Linked DNA regions of Homo sapiens: region 2 is linked to region 1. Evidence: fine-mapped expression QTL. A gene starts in region 1. The other region holds a variant in brackets. All regions are shown on one strand. Distances are between the middles of the regions. Region 1 holds the start of FCGR1A (Fc gamma receptor Ia). Region 2 holds the start of TRV-CAC1-7 (tRNA-Val (anticodon CAC) 1-7).

The links.
Region 2: its variant is fine-mapped to the expression of FCGR1A in blood mononuclear cells (TOPMed, PIP above 0.99).

Annotation. Positions count from the first base shown.
Region 1 is chr1:149,781,060-149,783,952 of GRCh38, reverse strand. It overlaps FCGR1A (Fc gamma receptor Ia), which reads right to left and starts at 1,259. Exons shown (of 6, transcript NM_000566.4): 1 at 1,179-1,259; 2 at 763-783. The coding sequence starts at 1,209. It overlaps LOC124904411, which reads left to right. Exons shown (of 2, transcript XM_047438183.1): 2 at 693-1,063. It also overlaps a transcript of H2BC18 not described here.
Region 2 is chr1:149,711,281-149,714,192 of GRCh38, reverse strand. TRV-CAC1-7 (tRNA-Val (anticodon CAC) 1-7) reads left to right here and starts at 1,569; the gene lies at 1,569-1,641. The variant A/C (reference allele first, on the strand shown) is at 1,555.

The DNA.
Region 1 (2,893 bases):
GGAGGGCTCTGAGCAACTGGTGAGGCTTTTGTGGATAGCACAAGGGAAAAATACATATTTAGATTTATTTGAAAAATAGGCAAGTGGAAACCTACAAAAGCCAGCCTTTAAGAGTGTCCTCCTGCTGCAGAGACCTCTGTTCATTGTTATTAAATCCTCATCTGGGTGTTGGGAATCTGGGGCTCCTGAGGATTAAATTACTGATGTAGGTTTTTCTGTTGGGAGCAATGAAGCAGGGTTTTAGACTTGGGCAAGCCAAGCGGAGCTGTTTTCCTTATCCTCTGAGCTATACTGTCTCTGAGAGTACATTGCAGGGCTTCAGCAGCTTGTACATTGGAAACGGAGGTTCAAACTCCTCTCTTTGAAGCCTTCAGTATTTGCCTGGCTCTTTCTGAGGAGAAAAAACCCACTCTGCTTTCTTGTAAAGGGGACTGGTTTAGGGGATGTTGGGAAACCCAGCAGACTACTTCAGTGTCAGCAGACTACTTTAGTGTTTGTGCAATTCTGGCCCTTTCCTGCTGTTATATATACATTCAGGCATTTCGCTCAGAGGAAAGAGCTCATTCAGAAAACTTTAGAAAGAAAGCTTACAAATCATAGTTTTTATGAAAATCATGCTCTGAATATGGGAGATTTTACATAATTTATAAATCTTTCTTCTTTCTCTGCTTTCCCTATATGCTCTTCTGCAGGTTAATAGGACCCATCCTTTGGAAGTAGGAAAGTGGCATAGAAGGAGAAGCTGAGTTAGAGATCACTCACCCACTTGCCCATCAACTGGAACTGCAAGAGATCAGAGAATAAAGATATCAGTTGGTCCAAGGAAAATAATGAGGAAGAGAGAATTGGGGAGACAGAATTAATGTAGACTCTGAGGGATCAACTCAGATCTCTTGAGTTTCTATTTCTCTTTCTCAAAATCCAGTACTAACAGAACTGAACAAGCTACAGGTGGTTATCAAGGAAACTTCACTGCGGTGCGTCCAGGCTTAATGCTACCTCAGGGTTGCCCTTCCCATCCTTTTCATAAAATAAGCTCTAATAAACCATGGAAGCACAGATACAAGTTGCTTCATACTCATGAGTTCTACCCAGAGTTACCACAGGAAGACAAAACTCTTGACTCACAACAGCCACAGCCTGTACCCTTCTAACTGTCCCCTCTGAGTCCAACTTACCCCAAAGGAGCAGAGTTGTCAAGAACCACATGTTGTCTCCAAGCTGGTGGGAGCAGTGAAATCTGTAACATGCAAGATATTGAAGAGGTTCTGCTGGTGGCTCCAGAGCCAAATTAGAAAAGAGGAAGGAAATTGCCTTTTCTGACCATTTTCATCATGTTGCTTTTCTGGGAAATACATCTCAAATTCTTGAAACATGCTTTTCCCATGCTCATACCTGTTAGCCCATCTCTCCCAGTTTGAATCTCTGATTTTCAGGTTATGAACTCTCAGAATCCAGGGAAAAGGCTAAAGTTGTATTGACATTCTATTCTATTTTTACCCTCTACCGTTTCTGTTTCTTACGGTTAGAATATGGCAAAACCTCACTCTTTATAATTGGTTCAATGCCTGGCTAATGCCTCCAAACAATCATTTGAATCCAGAAGTTTCTATATCAGCCTCTATGAGGCCATGGGAAAAGTTACTCATCTACAAGAGCTGCCCTAATACAAACCAGCCTCTGCTCCTCTAGGGGACACAGACAGGATCAATCTCCCATTTTGGTTAAAAAAGAAAACAAACTCTCTTCCTGAAAGACATCATGAATTTGGAGTGTTTATTTTGGCTAAATCCAAGGTAATTAATTGTTTAATGTGGATGCTATGGAGAAGAAAAATAACTCATGCACATGGATAGCAATATCTTCAAGAAAAGAGTTTCAGAGTACAAGTGGGGAGCTCTGTGCCACCAAACTGAGGTGGCTCCTGAGACAGAGTTGTAACCCCATAAAAAGATTTTTAGGTATTGTGGTAAGAGAGAAAGAGAGCTAAATGGAAACTAAATGAGAGCTAAAAAAAGAGAGCTAAAGAGAGCTAAATGAATTCAATGAGTGCAGAGAGACTTTGGCAATCTTACTAGCAGAGAATGAAAAATGATGACAAATCATGCTGTAAGTTGGTGTACTGGCCCCAGTTTCTCACCGCTCCCTGAATCTACACTCTCTCCACAGCCTCATGAGGGTATGTCTCTGACTCTTGACTGTGGCTCATCATGAGACTTTCATTGGCCAGCGAAATGTGAATGGAAATGACATGGTGCTAATTTCAAACTTAGCACTTAGGAAGCTTCACACATTATCTCTCACCCTCTTGTTCTCCTGTGATTGCTGAGACAAGAACATTTTTTAGCTAGTCAGCCACAGTGCGAAACAGAGCTGTCCTAGACATTGTGGCTTGAGGCAGAGCTGCCTCACCTGCCCTGCAAACTTGTAAGTGAGAACTAAATGCTTACCTTTATATGCTACTGAGATTTGAGGATTGCTATACGAGCAAGAGCTGACTGACACAAATGAAAAGCAAGGAAGAAAGGCCGGGAAGAACTCAGGGTGTTCTGAAGAGACGAGAGAAGCCTCAGCTTGTTAAAATTTATATTCAAAGCCTATATCTGTAACTATTTTACTATTTTGTCTCCAAAGTTTTCTACTGTATGCATGTACCATAATTTATTTCACCAACTTCTCTTCATGAACATGTAGGTTATTTCTAATTTTTTACTGTGTGACCAGTAAAAAAGACTGCTTACTACCAAAATAGTCTTGTGACTACCTTTAAACATTTGACTTATTTTTTCCTTAGGACACATTCCTAGAATCAGTAGTGCTTACTCAAAGGAAATGCGCATTTTTTCCTTTGGATAAGATGCTATCAGATTGTCTATGATCATTATCCTCATCA
Region 2 (2,912 bases), 70 kb after region 1:
TGGTCCAGTTTAGGATGCAGTCCAGTAGATGGTGCTTAAGAGTCAGGGCTGTTACGTAGGCTGGTGTCCAGTGGAAAAACCTGCCCTGACAGGATGGTGGGAAAGAGATCATGTCGGGGTGTGCTGAGGTCTCAGGGGAAGGGGCAGAGGTGCACTAGCTCCTCCTCCTGAGTAGGCAAGAATGTGATCCGCTTCCCTATCATGCCCTGTCACAGAGCTCACAACCTTCATTTTATAAAGACTTTGTCCTTTGGTTCCTGGCTGTGGTGCAGCTGAAGTCTGTGGATATGCCACTCTGACAGCTACCACTAAAATGGGGTTTAGGGCAGAGCCTCTTCCCCGAGTCCAGGGCAGGCAACTCCATGGTCTGTCCTCCATTGCCAGGGCACTGCAGCTCTGTATAGGGAGGGAGAGTTGGGCCCGTCCTTCCTGAAAGCCCAAGCAGCACAGGCTCACTTTCAGCCTGGGTGGTGCCACCATGAATAACGTGCATAATGTTCTCTCCTGGTGCACACTCACTGGGTCCTGGAGAAAAGAACCACTGCTATGTCTGCAGCCATATACGGGGTAGGAGAGAGATGATCCCTGCTTTTCCTGCTTTTCCACTCCTGTTCCTGGGTGTCAATGCTGCCCCCTTCTGCGATTGGTGCCATGCCAGTGTTTTCTTCGTCCCTAGGAGGGCTTTGGGACAGTGAGCAAACAACTGTTCTGATAAACGCAATTTAACCCGCGACCCTTGGCTCGCTCAGGTCGTGGGGTTGGGCCGCCTTTGCGCTTTTCCTTTGGATCTGCCCTTCTTCTGGGTTTGTTCTCTCGAGCTAGGGGAAGGCCTGGGTCCCCTCTCTTTGGCTCCTCTTGCCGTATCAGAAACCTCACACTTCTTCCTTTTCCAGAGAAGCTTCAGAGTGCTTTGTTGGGTTTGCTGGAACTCGGCAGGGCGCAGTATGTGGGGATGCGCGCTGTGAGTCTCTGTTTCCTCCGCTGTGACGGCTCTTCCCGCTCCTGTAGGAAAAGGCAATGCCCCTTTTGTCTTGTCTATGTGGGACTCCAAAGGGTCCAGACGAGACAGAAAGGGGGCGAATCCTCTCAGAGTGGGCAGGGGAGGAGATACAATATGGGAATGGGGCGGTAGAGGGGTGGGATTTCATGAAATTTCCTGATTTAAGGCGATCATGAAGTAGGCCTCTTTGGGAGCTTGGCCCTCCAGTCGCTGGTAAGGGTAACAGCCCACCAGTCTCTGGTGAGGTCCAGTCGCGTCCCCCGACTGCATTTAGAGCCAAAAGCAGAACGAGGCCGGCTCTGCGGCCTGGCGTCCAGTGACCCAGCTGTCTGCATATTCCCCAGGGTGGAAGCACTTGGACTTCAGGTGTGAAGGCAATGCGGTCACCACCACAGTAAGAAAAGCAACTAGGGAAAATGGCACCTTCTTCTCCCAACTTTTTTTTGAGACTCTCGCTCTGTCGTCTAGGCTGGAGTGCAGTGGTGCGATCTCGGATTTGGAAACTATAATAGAAACGGCCGATCTAAGATTTTCATGGTTATATTTTGCCGTGC[A/C]GGTACTGCTTGTGGTTTCCGTAGTGTAGTGGTTATCACGTTCGCCTCACACGCGAAAGGTCCCCGGTTCGAAACCGGGCGGAAACATAGGTTTTTTTTTTTTTTTGTTTTTGTTTTTGTTAGCCCTTAAATTTAGTGAGTTTACTCGAGGTTGGAAAACAGAAAAGTAGTTGAACCTGTGACTACATTTTAGACCTCATCAATCTATACAGATTGTCGACCAGGCTACAATTTCCACTGGTCTGCCAGGAAGAGGACGTCACAGCAGGCCTGCTTAATATTAACTTTGGTTCCAGCAATTCCTTAAGGTTCTCTTCATTCTCTTTATCGCCTGAATTTTCACAGGCAGACACCGAAAGTGGATGACATGTTAGCGCATTTCCTAAGGGTCCAGCTTGGCTTCGCTTTACTCTGATACAGTTGCAGATCTGGCTGATTTGCGAGACAACAAAAACAAAATGTTTTTTAAAAACGTTCCAAATCTGCATCTGGAACTCATGGAGTCAATATTCCGAAATCACACGAATTATGTACACACATTTGCATGCATACCCCTTCCCCAAATAATCCTCAGAAAACCGGTAAGCGTCCAAACTACTCTCCGGAGGCTTAGGTAATCAACAATTTAATAAATACAATTGCTAATGTATGGTGTACAGATCCTGTATTGCCCACCCTTCTCTATTGCTTTGTCCCCGCGCGCCCTCTGTTTTGCCTAAATGGGTTCCAGGCCATAGCCACCGACTCTCGCTTTGCCTTCTGGCCTCTCGGCAGTGCGCTTCAGCACCATTGCGCCAGGTGACGCTGCTGAGAACAGCTGAGTGGCCGGCACTAGTGCAGCTGGAAGCCAAGGCCCAGAATTCTCAGGAATCTGCACTTTACCCAGGCGAAAAGCCCAAGGGCTCTCCCCACAGCTTCCCAACATCCCTCTACAGAGTTTTTAAATATTAGACTTATTAACCTGTAGAGATGGAGAGAATCAAAGAAATCACAAGGTATCTCTGAGGGAAAAAGAAGAGCACCAGCAGTAAATCACTTAAGAGTATTGAACCAGCAAGCCAGGGATAGGAGAATGGAATGGAAACTGACAGGATGACTGCAGAGGGTGGTACTGAGGGTGGATGCGAACCACTACTTACTATTAATATATTGAGCCAAGCACACTAATGGGGGCATAACCAAAATACTTAATAGGGCACTCTTTTACCCACCATGTGTTTTACAATATAGTTGCTAAAGGATGTATCACCCTACTGGTTCTAGAAGCTTCTGGAGCCAAGGAGCCAGAGCATGAGAGCATAAAAATCCTGTCAATTGAAGCCTTGGGCTCTACACTGCTAAGCCTGGCCCAGAGGCTG